Linked DNA regions of Homo sapiens: regions 1 and 2 are each linked to region 3. Evidence: fine-mapped expression QTL. A gene starts in region 3. Each other region holds a variant in brackets. All regions are shown on one strand. Distances are from middle to middle. Region 1 overlaps LOC105369477 (a long non-coding RNA gene). Region 2 overlaps CWF19L2 (CWF19 like cell cycle control factor 2). Region 3 holds the start of CWF19L2 (CWF19 like cell cycle control factor 2).

Evidence for each region. PIP is the estimated chance that this variant, and not a neighbour inherited with it, causes the effect.
Region 1: its variant is fine-mapped to the expression of CWF19L2 in breast (GTEx, PIP above 0.99). The same link has a PIP of 0.9 or more in left ventricle, lung and unexposed skin.
Region 2: its variant is fine-mapped to the expression of CWF19L2 in whole blood (TOPMed, PIP above 0.99).

What each region holds. Positions count from the first base shown.
Region 1 is chr11:107,259,308-107,267,498 of GRCh38, reverse strand. All of the region lies in intron 1 of LOC105369477 (a long non-coding RNA gene), which reads left to right. Among named protein-coding and RNA genes, the nearest start is that of CWF19L2, 190 kb to the left of the region's middle. The variant C/T (reference allele first, on the strand shown) is at 3,724.
Region 2 is chr11:107,413,241-107,421,431 of GRCh38, reverse strand. It overlaps CWF19L2 (CWF19 like cell cycle control factor 2), which reads left to right. Exons shown (of 18, transcript NM_152434.3): 9 at 3,145-3,238; 10 at 5,134-5,223. Among named protein-coding and RNA genes, the nearest start is that of CWF19L2, 40 kb to the left of the region's middle. The variant A/G (reference allele first, on the strand shown) is at 4,586.
Region 3 is chr11:107,453,516-107,461,706 of GRCh38, reverse strand. CWF19L2 (CWF19 like cell cycle control factor 2) reads left to right here and starts at 3,882. Exons shown (of 18, transcript NM_152434.3): 1 at 3,882-3,995; 2 at 5,931-6,041; 3 at 7,135-7,257. The coding sequence starts at 3,891. RefSeq lists an enhancer at 3,598-4,103.

The sequences.
Region 1 (8,191 bases), 190 kb after region 3:
AACAATTATCAAATTCATATGCACACATATTACACATATTTATATGTAATAATTGTAATCCTATAGATTAACAAATGAGTTAATATTTATTATTTGTTTTGCATATTGTCATGCCCAGTAAATAATTTCTGATTGGTTTCATTCCATTTGAGATTCATTAGTAAAATAACTGCAATTTGTAAGTTGAACTAATTACCACTCAATCAAAGAAGCAGTACTGACAAGCGTCAGAGAAATCTGCCTTAAGGAGTCTTTGGCTGAAGAGCTATGTTGAATATATGACTAGAAAAAACAACACAAAGATGAGCGTTTTACTTCAATATTTTTTATGGTTTTTTTTTTTTTTTGCCTGTCAGTTGGATTTACTATCCGGTTATGGCTGATCACAGTGGGAGACATAGGTGCAAATAAAATAGATATTTATGAGCTTTGTTTATTTTATGAGGTTATTAAATTCTTTTATAAAATAAGAACTTAGCAGTGCTAAGATTTTTTTTCTTTCATTCTACATCCTGAAGTTCAGTCCTAGCCTGTGTCATCCAGTCGTTTCCCAGCATCCCTGTATATTAGGAGGAAATAAATCTAATATTTAAAAACTCTAAGTGGCATTCAGGAGAGTTTTGAATTTTTAATGTGAACATACATTTTCTTGAGCCAGAAGCCCTTCATCACTTCTCAGCTTTGTGGAAAATATTCCCATCTTCAGTGTCACCAGCCAACCTCCTGGCCTGATCCCGGCTCTGGCTGAACCAAGAGAACTTGTGTTCAGATGGCTAAGGAAGCAAGATTCCAAGGTGGAGTGGAGGCAGTGTGGCTGCCCATGAGGTAAAAGCACCCCAGAGTTCTTCCCAACTTCAGAGCTGTCTTAAAGCTGTGCTCAAAATCTTCATAAGCTGCAAGTGCAGACGAGGAATACTAATTTGCCAAATATGTTCGGAGACTTTATTGCACAACATGGCTCAAATCCTGATTTCCATTGATTGCCAGGAAGTGTAGAAAAGCTGTATCTTTGGAGCAATGGCAAATTTTGCCATCTGTAAAAGTGAATGATATTTCTATTTTAATGAATAAATTTGAAGACAATATTTGAATCCTCATTTCGTCAATAGAGTGCAAGCCTAGCCCTGTACCCGACATAAAATGCGTGCTTAATGCTTGTCAATGGAATAAAGGGAGCTGTACCTTGCTCACTGCATTTCCTACTTTCTCTACTGTATTTTTAACTTGGAAAGAAATGAATGCACCTGCACATCATCTTCATAGCCTGTGCTGCTCTTTATCCTAATTTATTTTTTGGAGGCTCAAACTAGTCAAAAAGCATCAAAGGAGAAAAGTAATAGGTTTACCTCTTTCTCCAGTCTCTATAATCCACTCAAAAACAATTTAGTTACATACAGCAAAGATAGGAATCTGTAACACTGAGCCTTCATGTATAGCCCTTTATCTTCTACATTCTCTAAGGAAAATTCTCTCAGGCAAATTATATGAAAATCCTGAAGGACTTGTGGACACCTGGTAGCTAAGATCAAGTGAAACAGAAAGTAAAATGATTCTTCACTCTTGGAATGAACTGTCAAGTCTCCTTTCCAAATATAATAGGCTGTTAAATGGGACATATGCTGTTTCCTTCAAATTCCAGCTAAAGCCTCAAAGCTAAGGATGATAGAGGCAATGTACCCACACTTTCTAAAAAGAGATGCCAGACTCATCCACGCAGGGCCTGCAGAAAGATAGTGGAAAGGTACCCATCATTCACCTCCAGTCTGTGTAGGAGGCAACTAGAATGTCAAAAGACATTTTGATACTTGATAAAGGTTGAATAAATGTATTAGAAGAAAAAGAATGATATAAGGTAACAGAGGGTGAGAATAATATCACTACAAAATAAGAGTATACAGTTATAGAAAGAAAGGTTTCCAGTGGAAAAAAAAATTATACACCGTGAGAATCCTGTTGAATTACATGAAATTTTATACAATTTTTAATTTTGTAATTTTTGTAAATCCTTATAAATGGATCTTATCTATTCCCTAATGTTCCCAACACAAGTATGTAATGTACCTGACATGGAAACTCAGATGTGTGTATGTGAACATGTATGTATGTAAGTTCTGTGTTTATTGGGCTTTATTTTCTACACATTATGGCCTCACCAACCACTTCTTCCTCCACCACCACATTTCTCAGTCAAGAAAAGGAAGAGTATTGGAATGTAATATTCTTAACATTTGCAGTGTTTCTGGAATTGTTGAGAAAACTACTTATAGCCCATAGAAACTATTGTATAGGAATGTCATGTGAGAATATTTCTGTTGTCCCAGGATTTCAAAGTTAGGAAAAGAAGTGTCCACATACACCAATATTCTAGGTCCAGAGAACTGCCAAAATTGGCAGCAGCCATTTATCCACATAGCTGACTGAAAATATTCTAGTTCAGAGAATTGGCCTAACATGGCCTCTCTGCTCCTCCATCTGCCTTTGCTTTTCTCCCACTCCTCATACTTAATATAAGGATGGATCTAGGACAGGGGAGGCTGCCTTTGGTAAGTGAGATGCAGTGCATCTGACAGACTGACTCTATTTTCTCCCATCAAGACCTTCCTGTGTAGAGGACAATAGGGAGTGCCATCTTTTCCTGCAGGGAAGGGAGAAAGGCCCCAGGAGGAGGAACCCTTTGTAAAGATGAGAGAGAAGGCTGGAAGAAAGAGAGACCTGTGTGTTAGTCTCCAGTTGAGTCCTTGCCTAAATAGTGGGCCTGTTAATCTGCCTGTGTTACCACAGCAGGAATAAAGAGAACCCAGAAGGTTATTGCCAGGGTGAGGGGACTGACAGGCAAAAGAGGTCAGAATTTCTTCTCTACCTCGAGGTGCAGAGGATGAATCCCACATGGGACGATGGGTCCCAAAATGTCACAGCTCATAAATGGCTGCCGGGGTCTAGGGGGTGCTGCTGAGGAGCAGGCCCCCCATTAGCAGGGCAGGTTTGAATGGCCACCAGCCCACAGGAATCCCACAGAAAGCGCTCTAAAGAAGTGGCCCTGAACACCCAACAAGGGAGCTGAGGCCTCCCTCAGTTGGGGAAGGAGACATCTGTTTTCTCTCTTCCTCTTTCCCACCTGACAGGGAGTAGAAGGGGTTATGTGAGAGCCAGGCATGTCCCATCCTCCACCACAAGCTGCTAGAACCACAATCATGAGGTGAGCCTGAGATGGGGCTGGAGAGGGAATGGAGTAGGGGAAGTGCTTTGACTCATATATGATATTGAACTTTAAAAATGAACAGAACTGATTCTTAGACATTTTTGGGACATCTAAACTAAGACATTTTTGAAAACCAAAAGTGACTAAAATGTTATGCAGCCTACTCAAGAGGAAGGATGGGTTTGGCCTAGTATTATTGGGTAGTAGCTATTAGGGAAAAAAATGTGTTTTTCTCCCCCCTAATCTCAACAGTTGAGACTCTTCAACACACTGATTGCACCATTTGACACTCGATTCCTTTGGAAAGCAGCCTGAATCTTGGAGAAAACCAGTTTTTTTTTTTTTTTTTTCTTCCCTAGCTGGTTTTAAAAACAATTCCTAATGGGTGACAAGATCTGCTTTTCTGGTGACAGTCCTTAAAAGTTGCTCATTAGCAGTTGATATTTAATGTGAGTGCTTCCTAATGTAACTTCATTTAGGTTATTTTTATTTAATGAACCCTGGAAAGCTGTAATGAAGCTACA[C/T]ACCCCTGTTGTTTTCATGCAGTTCCTGGAGCAGAGAAATTGTACAGACCCCTGAGCACAGCAAAGGTGTGAGAAAGGCATGAGTAAAGTTGGGTTGCAGCAGGTGGAGACTGTCCTCTTCAACATCAGTACAGGAAAAAAATAGCAGTTTCAGAAATGATGACTTTATGTGAACTAAAGTTAAGCAGATGTAAGCTGGAGTGGGAGGATGAGTTCCACAGTCAGAGAGTAGTGATTTGATCTCTTCTTTTCTCCCTCTCCTGTCTCCCCTCCTAGCCTGTCCAGATCCCATTTATTTTCTTTATTAAGGCTATCTCTTCTTATTTATTCAAACTGTCATCCCTCAACTAAAATCCATATTTTTTTCTCCTGCTTAAATGAATTGTGAGTGTAACAGGTAGCCTATTCAAGGAGAAATTAAACAGTGTGCCCGTTGAGAAACATTCTTTAAATGTCCACAGTGAACATCACAGGTCACTCAAAATAGGTCTTATACCGAAAAGTGTCATATGGCAGCCTCACCTTAGTTCTGCAACATTAAGTCAATTAGATCATGTTGAGAGTCTCTTTTAGTTCTGTGTTTGTAAGGAGCTGGTCATCTTGTCTTAGGAGATGAGTGTAAGAAGTCCTTACTGAATTTGATTGGCTGAAGAGAATGACTTAGCCCTGAAGAGGTAAGACAGACAGTGACTCTGGGCACTGCAGTTAGGGTCACTTCAACCCGGACACGGTGGCTAGCATTACAGTGCCTGGTTTTTCCCCAGGATGTGACTGTGAGGGTAAGCTGTGAACCCAAGCAAGAACCTCACCATAGATATGCAGAGTCCAAACCTGGCATCATTGTGGGAGGAAGCCCATGGAACTGTGCAGGCTCTTCTTTGAGCTCAACTGAGAAGGATATGAGCAGAAAGTAGCTTTATTCTTGCACACTATTGCCTTTAGGCAAGCTCTATTGACACCTTCTTCCCTACTTCTGCATGAAGTCCTGGGTAGATCACATGGTTTTATCAAGTCATTTCAGCTACCAATGAATACTGCCATTTTTCTGGTAATAAAAGTGTAGACCAGTCTCATATATAAAATTTAGTCTCTCATCCAATCCAAAGTTTCTCCCCTTCCCCAAGTGAATCCAATCCAGGCTGGGAAAGCTGCAGTGGAAAAAACATCATGATCATGCTTTAATTACGTCCTTCCCCATCCTCAATCCCCTAAGTCTCCTCTGGCTTTACCAGAGTTAGCAAACAAATAAAACACACCAAAAAACAAAAACAAAAACAAAAACAAAAAAAAAAAAAAACACCTGACTTGTGACCTGATATCTCTGGAGGGTGTCAGATGTCCCAAAGCTAATCTTTTTCTCATGAAGCAGTTCTGTGGGATTGTCAGAGAATCCCATTACTGGAGGTCTCTTTCCCACTGTTTCCTGGTACAGGTGCATCCCCCTATGAAGGGGGTCTGACTTTTTGAAGTCTGTCCTGCATAGACTGCTTTTTGGGGGTCACCTAGTCCTCCTGATGGCCCTTTTGGCTGGGATTTTCTTTTCTTTTCTTTTCTTTTTTTTTGAGATGGAGTCTCGCTCTGTCACCAGGCTGGAGTGCAGTGGCACGATTTCGTCTCACTGCAACCTTCACCTCCTGGGTTCAAGCGATTCTCCTGCCTCAGCCTCCTGAGTAGCTGGGACTACAGGCGCCCACCACCGCATCCAGCTAATTTTTGTATTGTTAGTAGAGATGAGGTTTCACCAAGTTGGCCAGGCTGGTCTCAAACTCCTGACCTCAGGTGATCCGCCCACCTCAGCCTCCCAAAGTGCTAGGATTACAGGCGTGAGCTTGGGACTGGGTGCAGTGGCTCACACCTGTTCACTTTACAAACTTAAAAAAAAAAAATCTGTTCCAAGCGTTGGGAATATAGCAGTCAGAAAAACAGTCACAGAAACTTACAGCCTAGTGGGAAGACATCATTACAAATGATCACACAAATAAATTTTCAGCAGGTGCAAATCTTAGTCCATAAGCTCAACATTTAAAAACTTTTATTTAAGTCAGCTTAGATTTGTATTAGAGTTGTCATCTTGACCCACACTGAAAAATTCTATCTCAGCAATTCTTGTCTGCTCTCCTCACACTTCCTTCTGTCTCTCGCCAAAAGATACACAGACTTTTTTTTGTGGCATCAAATACATTAGGAAAGTGCATCCCAGTAATGGCCACGTGGTCACACTGGATCATGCCCATGGACCACTGTGGCAGAGGGTCCCTTGTGGGCTGATGCTCTGCACTCAGGACTGGGAATCTTTGTGAGGATGGGGCACAGGCGCCTGTGGTCCAGCTGTGCCCTTGGAGGTTTCCCTGCCTCCCTGGGTGCTGCAAGGAGTGGAGTATGTGCTGGCCGCCCCACCACTCAATTGAGAATTACTCCTCTCCTGGCTGCTTCTTCCCTCTTGCTCTACATCTTCCCCTATAATCTCCTCAATGGGGAATTTTTAGGCAAAAACAAACATAAATTCATATCTCAATAAATTATTCTGCCTTAAGTAGTAAGTAGACTTCACACTAAGTACCAGGAAGGAAACAGACATGGAGCTGGCCATAAGTATAATAATGGGACCTATTAAATAATTTAGCTGTGGGGTGGGGACGGGACATCAGAAAATGCTTCTCTGAGGACATTACATTAAAGCTGAGACCTGAGCAATCGGGAGAACAGAGTATCCCAGGCAGATGGACCATATTAGTTTCCTTGACTGCCATAACAAATTGCCATAAAATTGTTAGCTTAAAATGACAGAAACTTATTCTCTCATGGTTCTGGCAGCCAGAAGTCTGGAATGAAGGTGTTGGCAGGGCTGCACTTTCTCCAGAGTCACCAGGGCAGAATCTTCCTTTTTCTCTTCTAACTTATGGTGGCTCCACACATTCCTCAGCCTGTGGTTGCATGACTCCAATCTCTACCTCTATTTTCACGTCACCATCTCCTCTTCTTGCTTTTCTTGTCTCTTATAAAGATGTCTGTCACTGGATTTAGGGCCCACCTAGGTAATCCAGAATGATCTCTTCTCAAGATCCTTAACTTAATGACATCTGCAAAAACCCTTTTTCAAATCAGGTCACATTCACAGGTTCTGGGGGCTTGGTATGGATGTATCTTGTTTTGGGCCATCATTTAATCCACTATAGGGACTAACAATGCAAAGTCCCTGAAACCATCTTTCCTGGACTCTCAGAGTAGTCCACCCCTAGATTACTCCTTTACCATGCCATATAGCATTTGGATTATTTTATTTTGTGTTTGAGATGTTTTGCATCTCCAGAGCATACATTGATTAGAGGCAAGAACTTTATATCTACTATGTTTGCATCCTACCCCACCTCTAGTGTCCAGCACAATATGGGCACTCGAGACACTTGAACTCACTTGTAGATTTAGAGCCATGTTTGTTTCCACTATTTGGGGGACAAAGCAAGGACATGACAAGTTTTGAAATGAAAATGAATAGTAGCATCCTAAATGAATGAGATTGCTCATCTGTGGAAATCTATTCAGGAAGAAATGATTCGGATGAGTGTTCCTGATAAGATGAGGGAGCTTCTCAGCTCCCAGCCAGGGACCCACGATGCTCCCTGCAAGAAGGAAGGCATCAATTTAGAGTGTAGCTAATGAAAGGCTGTCATCTTAGAAATGGTGACATTTCTGTCTCAAAGGTATGTTGTAATGACAGAAGTCTTTGGTGACTTTAAGGAACATTGAGACAGCAAGTGTTTGGTAAGAATTCGTCATTGCCAATCTGTCACTGTCAGAGGCACAGAGACACTGTGTCTGGAGGATGTGAGCTTTCTAGTCACGTTTAAAGCGGCGCTGCCTAGTGAAGTAGGGATAAGACCAGCAGCATCTCCCAGATTCCTGTTTGAATTGCATGCTTGCCATGAATCTTCTGGTGACAAGTCGGTTTCCCAGGCAATTTGACAGCTGGGGGTGAGGTGACAGGAGTGGAGCCAGGGAGCTATACCCTGCACAGTGGACAAGAGTCTGCCAGTCACCATTAAGGTCTGCTTTCTGTCCAAATGAAATTGGCTCTCATGGGTGTCTTGTGATTTTAGGGAGCAGGAATCAGTTCCCAGAATGTGGCTGATCCTAAGGAGAGCAAATACAGTTATCTGAATTTGCCATACCTGGAGCTAGATCCTGCTCTTTTGGTTGTCTGCCTGTGAGGGGGCCCAGCCTCAGGCATCCCACTTCTCTCCTACCCCTGAAGTTTGCTCTTTAGGAGAGTGTCTGGGGAGCAAAGGAAGGGAGGAAATATCAGCCGATGAATAGGCCCAGCCTTGAAAATTGACTTAGCTGCTGAGGAATAGATGAGTTGAATGGGGTGAAAAGACAGAGAAGTGTATTGGGGAAGGTGGACATAATGTTTTCAGTGAAATCATGCTTGGAGCTAAGGCTTCTGCTACTGCTTGAATGATAGTACATT
Region 2 (8,191 bases), 40 kb after region 3:
TTGTTTTTCTATTTTCTATTTATTTTACTCTGATTTTTATTGTTTTTTGAATTTTTTAAACTTTGTTTTAATTTGCTCTTTTTCTGCTTTCTTAAGGTGTAAGATGAGGTGATTGATTTGAGATCTTTTCTAATATAAATATTTAGTGCTATGAATTTCCCCCTGAATTAGCAGCATTCCATCAGTTCAGACATGTGTCATATAATTTTCCTTTGGTCTTATTTTTGACCCATGGGTTATTTACAGTTGCGCTATTTAGTTTCCAAGTATTATAGTTGAGGATTTTCCAGAGACTTTTGTTAATGATTTCTAATTAATTTCATTGTGATAAAAGAACATAGTTTATACAACTTGAATTCCTTTAAATTTATGAGACTGTTTGTATAGCTTAGAACATGGTGTATCTCAGGAAATATTTTGTATGCACTTGGAAAGAATGTGTCTTCTATTCTTGTTGGGTGGTGTGTTCTATGGATGTCCATTTGGGCATGTTAGTTGATAGTATTATTCAGGTCTTCCTTATGCTTGCTGATTCTGTTTACAGTAGTCCCCCTTTATCCATGGTTTTGCTTTCTGAGGTTTCAGTTACCCATGATCAACCATGCTCTGAAAATATTACAGTATTCTGCAAGAGATACCACCGTCACATAACTTTTATTACAGTATATTGTTGTAATTGTACTATTTTGTTATTGGTTGTTGTTGTTAGTGTCTTACTATACCTTATTTATAAGTCAAACTTTAACATAGGTATGTATATATAGGAAAAAAAATACTACAGATAAGGTTTGGTACTATCCAAGATTTCAGGCTTCCACTGAGGGTCTTGGAACATAACTCCTGCAGATAAGGGGGGGGACTATTATATTTATCCTATCAAATATTGAGAGAGAGGTATTGAAATTTATAGCTATAATTGTGGATTTGTTTATTTCTCTTCTGTCAGTTTTTGCTCATGTATTCAAACGCTCTTGCTGGATTGACTCCTTTTTCATATGAAATGACGTTCTTTGTCCCTGGTAATATTGTTTTCCTCTGTAATCTTGTTTGTTTGATATTAATGTAGCCACTTCAACTTTCTTTTGACTAGCATTAACATGGTATATCTTTTTCTATCCTTTTATGTTTAACATACGTATGTCTGTGTATTTATAGAACATTTCTTGTAGTTGAATTTTGCTTTTATATCCATCTGATAATTTCTGCCTTTTAATTTAGGTATTTGGACCATTTATATATAATGTTGTTGATATAATTAGGTTCAAATATGTAACTTTGCTATTCGTTTTCTATTTTTCCCATCTGTTCTTTTTTCACTTTGTCCTCTTTTTCTTACTTGTTTTGGATTATTTTTATGATTCCATTTCATTTCCTTGGTTGCTATATATTTTTTTTTAAATAGTGGTTGCTTTGTCTTTGATGGTGTACTATACCTTTAACTTATCATAGTCTATCTTCAAGTGATATGCTATTCCTGAATGGTGTAAGAACTTTATCATTGTTTATTTATATTTCTCCCTTTCTTTCCTTTCTGTTAGTGTTCTCATACATTTTACTTATACTTGTTATAAACCTCAAATATATTTTAAAAATAGTTATCTTCCGTTACATGTATGGTGGGATACTTAAGGTTGTCCCACAGCCCTCTGATGCTCTTTTCATTTTTACAGATTCTTTTCTCTGTTTCATTTTTCATATTGCTTCAAGTTCACCAAACTCTACTTCTGCAGCTTAATTTTCCATTAATCTTACCCATATATTTTTTATCTCACACATTGTAGTTTTCATCTGTAAAAGTTTATTTTGGATCTTTTTTATATCTTTGTTGTGTCTGACTTTTTGAACCTATGGAACACAGTTATAATAATCACTTTTAGTATCCTTGTCTGCTGTTTTTTACATCTGTGTCAGTTCTGGGTTGATTTTGACTGATAGCATTTTGTTCTAATTATGGGTTGTGTTTTTCTACTTATTTGCCTGTCTGATCATCATTGATTAGATACTAAGTTTTACAGACTACCTTGTTGAGTGCTAGACATTTTTGAATTTCTATAAATATTCCTGAGCTTTGTTCTGGAATATTTATATTGTTCTGATTAATTGGAAAACATTTGATCCTTTTAACTTTTGTTTTAACATTTTTTAGGTGGGCCCAGAGCAGCATTTAGTCTAGGGCATGCTGTTTCCCACTAATGAAGCAAGACTCTTTAATACTGTGTCTAGTGCTTTTTGAATTACGTGATTTCCTAGTCTAGCTAGTGGGACTGGATAAGCAGTTCCCAGGAATGCCAGGTACTCTACCTCCAATCCTCTGGGCTAGTTCTTTCCCTGACTGCAGGTGGTTTCTTGCTGAGTACTCAAGGGGAACCCTCTGCAGTTCTCTGGGATTTTCTTATGGTGCAGCTTTCGCTTCTTTGGTACTCTGTTCTGTGAATTCTAGCTGCCTTGGAATTCTTGGACTCCTGGCTATGTCTCCTTTACTCAGAAATCCTTCAGACTCTGACTGAGGTCACTGTCCTGCACTGTAGCCTTGAATTATTTCTTAAGGCAGTAAGCTAGGGAAATCTGACCTTGGCTGGAGGTTTCTTTTTTTGTGTGAGGCTTCCATAGTATAGGTTTGGCACATGATACCAGTTTTAAACTAGTTTATATTATTTGACTATATGTTATGTTCTGGACTGACTTTACAAAAAAGCACACGATCAATGCTTTTATTCTTTGAATGCAGTTAGATATATATATCATTTTATAGTTTCTTAGATTATTAACAACTTATGTCGAATGAGAAGAGTTTCCAAAGATGTATAGAATTATGGCCTGGTTCGAACGTTTTTTGTTTGTTTCCTTTTTAAAGTTACGAGTATGGGGATATTAAATAAGAAGAGTTGATAAGTACTATTTATCTCATTGTTATTGGGATTTTGATCAGTTATTATAACTGCCATAGGTGGTTGTGGCATTGTAACAGAGAACTTTATCAATTTGTGGAAAAATATTGAGTTTAATTTACATGTATTACAATCATGATCTGCTATTGGTACTGAATGCTTTGTTGAGGTCAGTTAAAATAACATTTGAGTCTTGATGTTATTGCTTGCATCGCACCTATATTTCATATGCTGTTAATCTTTCCTATTCCAATAGCAGTCCAGAGCGTGAGTCCATTCACATCCTGAGTGTTGATGAGAAGAACAAGTTGGGAGCCAAGATTATCAAAGCAGAGATGATGGGGAATATGGTAAGACTCTTAGATGTTGCTTTAGAGAATAATGATTAAATGTTTAACTTCTTATGAGTAATTTTAGAAGTTCCTTAGCAGTGTGGATATAGCACACTGTGAAAATAACTGTTGGTTATTGATTCCTTAAAGAAATTCTCAGGCCTGGCACCATGCCTGTAATCCCAGCACTTTGGGAGGCCAAGGCAGGCGGATCACTTGAGGTCAGGAGTTCGAGACCAGCCTGGCCAAAATGGTGAAACCCTGTCTCTAGTAAAAATACAAAAATTAGCTGGGTGTGGTGGCGCATGCCTGTAATTCCAGCTATCGGGGTGGCTGAGGCAGGAGAATCGCTTGAACCTGGGAGGCGGAGATTGCAGTGAGCCAAGATCACGCCATTGCAGCACTCCAGCCTGGGTGACGAAGCGAGACTGTGTCTCAAAAAAAAAAAAAAAATTCTCGAACCTTTCTGTGAAGAATACTATCTACTTCTAAATAAATGATCTACTTTCTCTGTCAGATCTCTGAAATTGAAGATACTAAGGAACTTCATGCTTTTAAATTTCTTTTTTACTTGGCTATTTACTTTATTCCTGCATTTGTAACTCATTGAGCATATTTAAGGGAGATAAAGATGTCACTTTTTCTACCTCATTTTTGTCATATATTTGTAAGAATGTTTTTTACTTTTCCAAATTACTTAGGAACCTAAAAAGGAGGATTAAGTCATTTATTCAAGTTTTAAGTAAATGTGCTGTGCCTGATACTGTGTTAGATGCTTTGTGTAGGCTTACTCATTTAATTCCTGTAGTAATGTTTGATTTAAGACTAATTTACCTCAGAATTGTAAGAAATAGGGATGATTTGGTAAGAGCTGCATTTATCCATTCATCCATTCACTTATTGTCACATGCATATTAAAATAATATACAGTGAGATGTATATATTTAAGTGCACATGGCAGAATAGCACAGCCAGATATTCCACATCTTGATAGAATAGATTCAGTCATGGTCATATGTATGCACTCATCTCAAACCCAAATATAAGGGATCTTTAAGTAGTCTTATGTTTTGGTAAACTATTAGTACAATACTGTAGTAGAACAAATGGTAACCAAACAAGATATTTCTGTGTTATGTCTAATAAAGGGCATATCTTGCATATGCTGCTCTATCTCTTTGAATCTGATCCTTGGAAACACTGAACTTCCACTCGTCCTAGAAATTGGTAAGGGAAGTAAACCAACAACAGTAACGATAGCAAGAAAGTAAAGTTTGAGCTTTGAAAGTACAGAGGAATTAGTTAAAATAGTGAAAGAGAGGTCATCTAGGTAAAAGGGTGAAATATGTGTTCTTGTGTTCAAGA[A/G]GAACACTGTGGTGGTGCTTGCTATTCTTTGCATGTCACATAAATCTACTTATTTAATGTATTACTTCATGGTTTATTGCTTTATATGGCAGTTGTTTTATATAAATTTCTATAAGTTTCCTAGAGTAAAAATGAAATATCTTCGGAATTTTCATCTAAATTATCAACAATAAAGAAGGTAACAGTTTAAATCTTGTGATAGCTTTTTTGTTACCAATAACCGAAGTTGAAAGTATTGAACTTTTGTAATATTTAGTAATTATTAAAATGTCATTAAGGTTATGTATTTCCTTCATCTATCTCTTCCAAAATATATGTCCTTATAATTATTTATCTTTGAAGCATGTCACAGGTATTCAAGAAGTTTGTAACTGAGATAAGTTCATTAAAAAGTAGTATACTAGGCTATGGGTTGGTAATTGAAATTAGATGAAGGCTACATGAGTGTTGGTTATGCTGTTTTTCCTTCTGTTGTGTAAATTTGAACATTTTGTCGTAAAGAATTAAACTACATATCGCACATATTTTACTTGTTTTTCTTTTTGAAGGAATTAGCTGAACAACTTAAAGTTCAACTTGAAAAGGCAAATAAATTCAAAGAAACTATAACACAGATACCAAAAAAATCTGGGGTAGAGGTAAGTAATAAAAGTTTGGAGAATGTAATTACCTTGTGTAAACTACCACCGGGCAGTGGTAATATTTTATTTTATTTTATTTTATTTTTTATTTTATTTTATCTATTTTTTTGAGATAGTGTCTTGCTCTGTCGCCCAGGCTGCAGGGCAGTGGCATGATCTTGGCTCACTGCAACCTCTGCCTCCCACGTTCAAGCAATTCTTGTGCCTCAGCCTCCTGAGTAGCTGGTACTACAGGTGTGCGCCACCATGCCTGGCTAATTTTTGTATTTTTAGTAGAAATGGGTTTCACCATGTTGGCCAGGCTGGTCTCAAACTCCTGACCTCAAATGATCCACCCGCCTCAACCTCCAAAAGTGCTGAGATTACAGATGCGAGTTACTGTGCCCAGCTGGCAGTGGTAATATTTTAATGTGAGATGTGTCTGTATATGTGTCTGTGTGTTTATGTGTATGCATGCTTGTTTTAAAAAATTTAGTTTTCTATATATTCTCTTACATTCTATCAGTGTGCTCTGGTGGAAAAAAGCCTCGGGCTGAGACCAAGGAGTCTTGCTTTTATTCTGGACTGTGCTGCTTACTGATTGCTTCTGTATGAGTCAAACTGCTTCTTAACTGTCTCCTTCAGAATGAGAGACTTGAATTAGTTATTCATTTCATATAAAACAAATTACTTTGGTCTATGATTAATTCATCTATCTGTTAGTGAACAAAACAAATAAAAACACCTACCTGCATGGAACTTTCATTTGGGTAGGGAGGGAAACAATAAATTATAAAAATGATAAGCAAATTAAAAAATAATACAGTGTATCAGAAAGTTACCCTATGGCAGGGTAGTGGCAATTTTGAGTGACAGGTGGGTTGGTGGCTTGGAATGCACAGGCCAATTCTGTTGAAAAAGTGTAAGGACTTTATGTAAGGACTTGTAGTTAATGGAAGAGTGAATTTCTGTGTATTTGAGTGAAGAGCGCAGTAGTCATAGGGAACAGAGATTTAAAGGCCCAAAGATGGAAATATGTCTGATGTGTAGGAAGAATAGCAACGAGACTGGTGTTGCTGGAGTGGAATAAATGAGAGAGGGAAGTAGGAGATACAGGTTAGAGAGACTATAGGTGGCCAGATCATGTTAAGCTTTGAAAGTCATGGTAAGGAGGTGGACTTTTTTTTCTGACTGAGGTGGTGAGAAACTATTACATGGTTTTAAGCAGAAAACATATTTTGACAGGACCATTCTGGATTCTCTATTAAGAACGGTTTGCAGAAGCTGAAGTAGAGGTGGGCTTTTGTAATAATGCAGATAAGAAATGATAGTGGCTTTGACCAAGACAGATAGTAGCTATGGAGATGGTTAGAAGTGATTGCATTTTGTATTTGTATAAATACTTTATGTATATATTTTGAAAGAAAAACTGACAGGATTTTTATGGTGGTTTAGGTGGGGGGTGGGTAATGGGCTAAAGAGAGGAGGCAAAGAGGACTCCAAGGTTTTTAGCTTGAGCAGCTGAAAGAATAGCCATTAATTGAGTTGTGGAAGAAAAAGGAAGAATAGGTTTTGGGGCAAATCAGAGGTTCTGTTTTGGATATATTGAGAGTTTGGATGCCTGTTAGATGTGGAATAAGTGGAGATGTCAAGTAGGCAGTTGGATGGTTGGGAGTAGGGAGAAGATAGAATTGGGTAGTTGGGAAAAAGTCCTCTGTGCTGGAGATAGAAATTTGGGAGTTATTAACATGTAAGTGATATTTAAATCTATGATACTGCATAAAATAATCACAGGCATAAATGTAGTTAGAAGTTGAACAGCTGAGTTCAACTTCTGCATTACAGATTTAGATGTATATGAATAACTCTAGCTGGGTGTGGTGGTGTGCTCCTGTAGTCCCAGCTACTTGGGAGGCTGAGGTGGAGGATTGTTTGAGGCCAGGAGGTCCAGGCTGCAGTGAGCCATGATTGCACCACTGTACTCCAGCCTAGATGACAGAGTGAGACCCTGTCTCTAAAAAAAGAATAAATAAATAAATAAAAACACTAAAAACAAAATCCTCCCCTTTCCCCCAAAATAACTCATGCAATTTTCACAGTATCCTTTGAGGTAGTCCATGTCATTATTACAGTTTTATAGATCAAGAAACTGAGGCACAGAGGGCTAAGTAACTTGTCCAGGTATACAACTGGTAAGTGCAGGGCAAGGATGTAAACCCACAAAAGTACTTGTTTTTACATGATACCTCTTTTTGATGCTGAAGGACAAAGTCAGCTGCTCTTTTGGAGAATCAGGTTTGGGATATAATGAAGTTTAAAACTGGTTTTAAAGGTCTGTTCTCAAAGATTAATTTACATAATTTACTGTCAGTGTGGGAGGAGATGAGAATGTCAACTTCCCTAGAATTTTCTTCAGGCTAACATCATTCATGACTTAGATAACATTATAAAGAGTGTGTTTATGAAAATGGCTGTTTACACTAAGTTGTGGTACCTAATATTTTTAAAAAGTTTCTTGCACAGATTAAAGAATGGAGAGTGAGAAATTACTAGTAGGATTAAAAAGCAGGGACTGGGACGATAGCTAGAACTAGGTGTACTGTGAAGTCTATCTTACACACTTTTGCCAAATTATTGTTTTCAGGTGTCCTTGTGGTTAGCTGATTTTGTACTCTGAAACTTGAAGTGGTTTATTAGTGCTAACTGTTAGTACCAGATCTTCCTGCAGCATAGCCTTCCACAGTATGGCCCTGTTTTCCAGTCCTACCTCCAAGACTTACACATAACCAGTGTCTCTTTCACATTTACCTATGCTATTTATTATTTGTGCCAGACATCACCCTTCTTCATTATGGCCTTTTTCTAATCCTGTCATACAGTTGCAACATTTTCCATTTTTGAAACCTCAAAGACTTTTCTTTTTAAGATTTTATTTTTTAGAGCAGTGCTACATTCACAGCAAAATTGAGAGGAAGGTACACACATT
Region 3 (8,191 bases):
ACCCCTTCCTTACACCTTATACAAAAATTAACTCAAGATGGATTAAAGACTTAAATGTAAGACCTAAAACCATAAAAACCCTAGAAGAAAACCTAGGCAATACCATTCAGGACATAGGCTTGGGCAAACACTTCATGACTAAAACACCAAAAGCAATGGCAACAAAAGCCGAAATTGGCAAATGGGATCTAATTAAACTAAAGAGCTTATGCACAGCAAAAGAAACTATCATCAGTGAACAGGCAACCTACAGAATGGGAGAAAATTTTTGCAATCTGTTCATCTGACAAAGGGCTAATATCCAGAATCTACAAAGAACTTCAACAAATTTACAAGAAAAAAACAACCCCATCAGAAAGTGGGCTAAGGGTATGAACAGACACTTTTCAAAAGAAGACATTTATGCAGCCAATAAACATATGAAAAAAAGCTCATCTTCACTGGTCATTAGAGAAATGCCAATCAAACCACAATGAGATACCATCTCATGCCAATTAGAATGGCGATCATTAAAAAGCCAGGAGACAACAGATGCTGGAGAGGATGTAGAGAAATAGGAATGCTTTTACACTGTTGGTGGGAGTGTAAACTAGTTCAACCATTGTGGAAGACAGTGTGGTGATTCCTCAAGGATCTAGAACCAGAAATAACATTTGTCCCAGCAATCCCATTACTGGGTATATACCCAAAGGATTATAAATCATTCTACTATAAAGACATGCACACGTACGTTTATCTCTGCACTGTTCACAATAGCAAAGACTTGGAACCAACCCGAATGCCCATCAATGATAGACTGGTTTAAGAAAATGTGTTACATATACACCATGGAATACTATGCAGCCATAAAAAGGATGAGTTTATGTCCTTTGCAGGGACATGGATGAAGCTGGAAACCATCATTCTCAGCAAACTAACACAAGAACAGAAAACCAAACACCGCATGTACTCATAAGTGGGAGTTGAACAATGAGAACACATGGACACAGAGAGGGAACATCACACACCAGGGCCTGTTGGGGGGTGAGGGGCTGGGGGAGGGATAGCATTAGGAGAAATACCTAATGTAGATGACGGGTTGATGGGTGCAGCATACCTCCATACCACGTGTATACCTATGTAACAAACCTGCACATTCTGTACATGTACCCCAGAACTTAAAGTATATATATATATATATATATATATATATATATATATATATATATATATATATATATAAAGAATGTGGGTACATGTCTAAAGGACACAGGAACCAGCTTGAAAGGGCTCTCACTGGCCTAACCTGGACCAATTTGAGGATCAAAATAAATACTGATAACGAATTTTTATCCCACTGAACAAAAACAGGAATCCACTGAGAAATTATGAATCTGTATTATATAAAAATAAATAACTTGAAAATTTGGTACATGATCTACATAGTTTCAAAGAACCACTTCACAAAATACTTATTATAGAAGGAAAAGAGGTACTTTACAGCAGAGAAGCTCTGCAGATGCCAGTTTATTTAAATGATCAGAATTAACATCACCTGTAATGGAACAAATGGAAATCATGCGCTACCCAACAGGATGCAGTAAGACCGCCTCACTTCTGTGATCGTCCTGCTTAAGAGGCCAAATTTGAATTTAATCACAAAAGAACCTCCGACAAACCCAAGTTGAGTGACATTCTATAACACAACTATCCTGCAATCTTCATGAAACTTTTGTAGTTAATTGTGATCATCTGACCTATTTCTGGATCATAGGATTTAAATGAAAGAAACTGAACTAGGCTTTAGGAAAAGCCATCATTTTTCTAATAAAAAATGAGGCCAGCTTAGCTAACAACGTTTACCCTTTGTCCTTTCTCTTTATTCTTGTTTATCAGATGCCGTGAACAGATGTGAAAGAATATGATACCCTGCTTGTGACTACAAATACTAAAGTCACAGACTGCAACAAAGCGAAAAAGGATAAACTATTTGGCTCCTTCAGCAATTGCACCAAGCCTGGACCAGTTACTTTTAGGCTCCTTGTTACGTTATCCTTTATTTGATTAAGCCATGTGACTGGATTCGCATTAGGTGTGGCCAAATGCAAACCTAGCCAAAATAACCTGCTTTTTCTTTCTTTTCTTTTCTTTTCTTTTTTCTATTTTAACATATCTAGTTCCCCTCTCTAACCCCAACTTTTTTTTGGGCAGTTTTATTTGTATTGCATGGTATTTACAAATTAATTGAGAAATGATTTTTTATGATGTTTTCTTCTTTAAGCACATAGTATACCTCTCCATTCGTTCTAGTCTTTTTGGGGAGCTTATGCAAGATTTTAAAGTTTTCTTCATATAACTTTGCACATTGCTCTAGACCGAATGTTTGTTTCCCCAAAATTCTTATGTTGAAATCTAATCCCCAATGTGCTGGTATATGGAGGTAGGGACTCTGGGAGGTGATTAGGTCATGAGAGCAGCACCCTCATGAATTCCTATAAAAGAAGTTCTAGAGAGATCCCTCTCCCTTTCCGCCATATGAGACACAGCAAAAATACTGCCCTCTAGGAACCAGGACACACCTTCACTAGACAGCAAATAGCCCAACACCTTGATTTTATCCAGCCTCCAGAACTGTAAGACATACTTGTTTGTTATTTATAAGCCATCCATTCTATAATATTTTGTTATAGCAGCCTGAACTGATTAAAACACACACGTTTCTAATATAATCACAGTTTATTTTTATTGAATTGATGCAAAACAGTGAAATGGATGTTTTTCTGAATTCCAAGAGAATCTGAAAAGACGTTGATGCTAGTTATGACAAATATCAGTCAATGTAGTCAGTTGATTAAATATTACAAGGTCGATTAGTAAATTACATTTTAAAATAAAATGAATACTTTCTATTGCATATCAAACAAGTAGGCATTGTGTGTTCAAGATTCAGACTCATAGAATGGTAGTGAATGTAAAAACTCTTGGAAAGCTTCTTGCAAACACACATTAAATTTTATGAAACCTGAAGAGAAAGAGTATTTACCTCAACCTGGCTTATGTTACTTATTTTTAGCGTCTTTAAGGTATCGTTTATAATTAATTCCCCAGCCTTCTTCTTCTTGTAAATGTAAGCTTAGTGTCTTATGTTCTCAAAGCACTTCATCACCTTAGAATGTCTTATTCTTCTGAACTTAAAAGTTTTATGTTTGGGCGATACATGCGTAAAACAAAACAAAGAAATCTCCGCAGAAATAAATAAGTAACTGTCCATTGTAATGAAAAATGCTTGGATGGATAAGTATGAGTAAATAATATGGGGTCAGAGGAAAAAATATAATGTAAACTTCTAACAAGTTAAGCACGGGTAAATTGTGAAGTGCAATGCAAAATTCACATGAGTGTTTCATATATTAAGTAAAATCCACCAAAACAAAACACTGAATCTTCAAGGCAATTCTGTCCTTCCTGCCAGCTGCCACTACCTTTCTGGCAGCCTCCCTTTATCCCATTCCTCCAGCACAGGGAAATGATGCTCTGGCGACAAAGGGTACTTCCGCAGAAAACTTTTGAGAGGTACCAACTTAACTTCCAAGAGCTTGTAACTTACTCCGGTGATTTTAAGACGAAATTGGTGAGAAAGCTGTTAATATAGTAAAAAGTGCATAATAAATATATACGGGTATTAATCCTGCTCACAATCGCACCCAACACCTGAAAGAATTAAACCCTCCAACACCCTTCGGGTCTTTAAAATCTGGGCTGCGGTAATCCGAGCCCTAAGCGACCTCAGATGTGCGCATGCCCTGTTGGTGGAGCCGTGCTCCTCCTTCCTCGGGTCCGGAAGTCCCGGTTTGTTTGTTAAATTACGACCGTCGTAAACTAGAATTTTCTTGCGGCTTCTTAGCTTTACGATGGCAACAAGTATGGCGGCTGCTAGTGGTAGATTTGAAAGTGCGAAGAGTATCGAAGAGCGGAAAGAACAGACCCGGAATGCCAGGGCCGAGGTGTTGCGCCAGGTACCTCTGTTTTGGGGCTTTTGTAGTTATTTATTGTTGTGGGAGTTGAGGGTTCCCGTAAGCTAGCCCACTCACCCCTTCCCTTACCTCGTCAGTACTGAATCTCACCTTAATTTGGGTGAGTTCTCCCTTTGCAATGCCGGTAAACCCTTTTGTAGCTACCGATTTTTTAGATGTTCTGGCAGGTGCCAGTTGCTAATTCTCTTTTCAGGCAGATCTGTCGCTTTTTCTCCAAGTTTCTTTACCTTTTAAGTTACCCATTCTTTACATTTCTATCACTCGGACTGCACACTTTGTAGGTCCCCTGCGGCTTGTAAGGACTCTGCCAGCATGTCTCGCAGCCTCAGTCATTGCTACTGCTGTATCTGAAATGAGATTTTCCTTTTTCGGAAACACATTCAAGTCACACTTGAATAGACTCAGTTTGACATTTCCTCCTCCTGTCTCTATTGGTATCAATTCCAGACTTACTGTAAGCTCTTACCAATCCAAACAAAAGTTAACACCAATCTCAGTATATTTAGCCTGTCACAAAAGATCGCGAAACATTGTATTTCTCACTAAACTTCAGATACATAGAGGTAACATACAAAGAATGGAGAAAGTAAGCTTCTGAATTATCTGACAATCTATTCAATATGTAAGAAGTGTGGCAATGAAAGAGAAAAGTTGCAGTTGGAGAGCAACAGAGAATTCAGTGAGGGTTTTTGTTTTTATTTAAGTTGGAAGAGTTTTAAACAAGTTTAAATGCAAATGAGAAGGAGCCAGCAGAGAAGAGGGAGAGGAGACTCTAAAGGGAAAATGACATAGTTTCAAAATTTGGCAAATAATTTGAGGGTGAAGCAGCCCCATTCTCCTTTAATCTCCAATTTTCTCACCCTGTTCTTTGGAGTCCATCATAAGCCCTGCTCTTTTCTCTGATATCGATTTTTCTGTTTGGTATATAACCATTGTATTCATCTTCTTGCCTACACCAAGAATTATTATATGCACCCAGGGAAAAGCTAGCTGCAGAATGTTGGACTACCTCTCCATGATTTTCCCTTTTCTGGAATATTAACTCTTCTAGTTCTTGTTGCTTCAGCAGTTCTCTGATATAAACCTTTAATAAATTATTTTTATATTTGATTAAAAAAAAAAAGAAAATGACTACAGCCAGGTTTTAAAGGGGAAGAGTGGGCGATTAGTCTTGGGTAGGTGAAATGTTGGTATTGTTTCGTAATTTCAACATATGTAATGTGTGTGTGTGGGTATATATATATTATTCATTCTTTTCTCTTTGGTATTTCCAGCAGTTTTTGGAGGGAGTAAGTTTCGTAAGTTGAGATAAATCTTATAGTAGAGATATGCATAGAATTTGAAAAGGACCAAACTGAGCTTTGGAGTTACAGGGAAAGAAAGAGGGCAGGAACGATTTCCTAGGAAAAACTTGCTTTGTTTGACTATCATTGAAGAATGGATAAAAATTACCAATATGATCCTTTCTTTATACAGAGATGATTCTTCCTGAGGCATTTTTGGGGCTGGGTATTGGGGCTACAGGCATTGCATATTGAAGGCGTGGAGGTCTAACTGTTGCAAAAGTCTTAAGGCAGTAGCCATGGGAATGGTGAAGGGAAAAGGGATTCCAAGTCATATTGAGCTAGGGAGCTTAGAGAGATGGGAGGGCCTGGACTCAGTCCCTGGATTCTCTCTGATTGGTAACTCAAATCACTGGAGATTGGAAATGCAGAAGGAGAGATTTTTGCTTTGTTTTGTTTATTTATTTATTTTTTTATTTTTTTACACTGGAGAAGCAAATCCCTGGCAAGGAATAGACATTCATTCATGAGTGGATATTTTTGTATAAAAATGACAGAGGTTTTTGTTTTCCTTTTTTTGTGAAACCCAGTTGGGTCAATTGCCAGTTTGTCTTTTTTTTTTCTTTGGTTGTAGGCTAAAGCCAATTTTGAAAAAGAAGAAAGGCGTAAAGAACTTAAGCGACTTCGGGGTGAGGATACATGGATGCTACCTGATGTGAATGAGAGAATTGAACAGTTCTCACAGGTGAATACTAACAGGTTTACGTGATGTAAGGATATCTGTCCTTTTTTGCACGTATTCAAGTTAATATTGGATGAATAATTTTATAGAATGTTTTCATAAGTTACAAAATGAATATCACATAGTTGGCATTGCTGAATAGTTTCATCTCTTTGGCAGAGGTAAGATATTGTAATATTTTGGACATTATGACTCAAGTTTTGTTATTTGAGTTTGGCTAGTAGAAGACAGCTTCAAATTTCTGGCCCACTATAGCAAGCTTATAGGCCTAAAAATTTATGCATTTTAAGCTTTATGTATTTATTTTATTTTATTTTTTTAGGTCTCAAGCCTGTTTTCCTATAATTTTTTTAAAAATTATTTTTAATTGACAAATAATAATTGTGTAAATTTATGGGTTAGAGTGTGATGGTTTGATCTATGTATACATTATAGAAAGATTCAGTCAAGCTAATGAACATATCCATCACCTCATCAACTTATTTTTTTGTGGTGAGAACGTTAAAAGTCTGTTCTTCAATGGCTTTGAAATAGATAATACCTTATTATTAAATGTGGTCATCAGTAATAGATCACTAAAACTTATTTCTAGTGTCATGAAAACTTTGTACCCTTTGATCAACATCTTCCCTTTCCCTATCCTTGCTCCTTCCCCTAGCCTCTTCCTATAATTTTAATTTGTGCTATCTTGTTATATTTTTTATGGCCTAATAGTCTTGTATAAATTTTTGGGGAGACCATAGAGGGATATTATATGTATGTGTGTTTGTGTGTGTATAGATGCATGTATACATGTTTGTGTATATATGTGTTTATTTGATTATATTTGTCACATTAATCTACAAATAAAGCCAAAATTTTCCCAGTATTTTTCTGGTAAGAAGTCTCAGTTATATGATTTATTGATAGTGCATATATTATAGAAGGTGTGTTAAGATTTCCTGAAAGATTTTATTTATTTAGACATATTCTTGGTCTTATTTCATCAGAGATTGAAAGTTTTTTAGAATGTGGTTTATTTTTTTTCTCTCAGAATACATCCTTTTAAATTAAGATGAAATTAAATTATTTTCTTGCCTGTTCAAAATGATTGTAGGAACACTCTGTGAAGAAAAAGAAGAAAAAAGACAAGCATTCAAAAAAAGCAAAGAAAGAAAAGAAAAAAAAGAGCAAGAAACAGAAATATGAAAAAAACAATGAGTCATCTGATAGCTCATCAGTAAGTATGTACTAAAATTAATCAAAGCAGCTATTTGAGAACATTTTATTTGAATGTGTAACTTATGGGAAGTTAAAATACAAGAAAACGTAAAAAATATATTACTAGTTATGATATGAAAATATCTGGGATACATCTACTTAGAGATGTCCAGAAAATATTGGAAATGTTGATCTTGAATTTCAGAGAAAGGCTAAGAGGATAGGGATATGATTTGGGAATTATTGCTAAGCACAGCACTGGATCTTGCCCAAGGCCTGCTGTAACAATTACCTGGCTACAGCTGGTGTTCACTCAAGGCCCTGGGGCTCTGCAATCAGCAGGTGATGAAGCCAGCCAGGCCTGCGTCTTTCCCTTCAGGGTGGCAAGTTCCCCCAGGCCTGAGGGTGGGTCCAGAGGTGCCATCAGGGACCCAGGTACTGGCGTCAAAAACCTTAGACTTGTACCTGGTGTTCTATTGAACTGTGGCTGAGCTGGCATTCAACCTATGAATGGCAGTCCTTCCCACTCTTCCCTTTTCACAGGCAGAGGGGCCTCACCCTGTAGCCACCACCATAGACCCACAGGTAGTACTGGCAGGCTACCACTGATGTTCCCTTAAGGCCCAAGAACTCTTCAGTCAGCTGCCCGGCCTGGGACTCACCCTTCAGGGCAGTGGGCACCCCCTGGGCCAGGGCAGATCCAGAAATGCTATCCAAGAGCCAAGGCGTGGGGCTGGAGACCCCAAGATCCCTCTTGGTGTTCTACCACCCTGTGGCTGAGCTGGTACCTAAGGCGCAAGACAGAGCCCCCTTTACTTTTCTCAAGCAGAAGGAGGCTCTCCCCATAGCCACCACAGCTGGGAATGTGCTGAGTCTCACCTGAATCCAGCAAGTCTCAGATACACAGTGAAGGCCACAGTGTAGTACCCGATTATTGGTGCTGGTTATTCAGG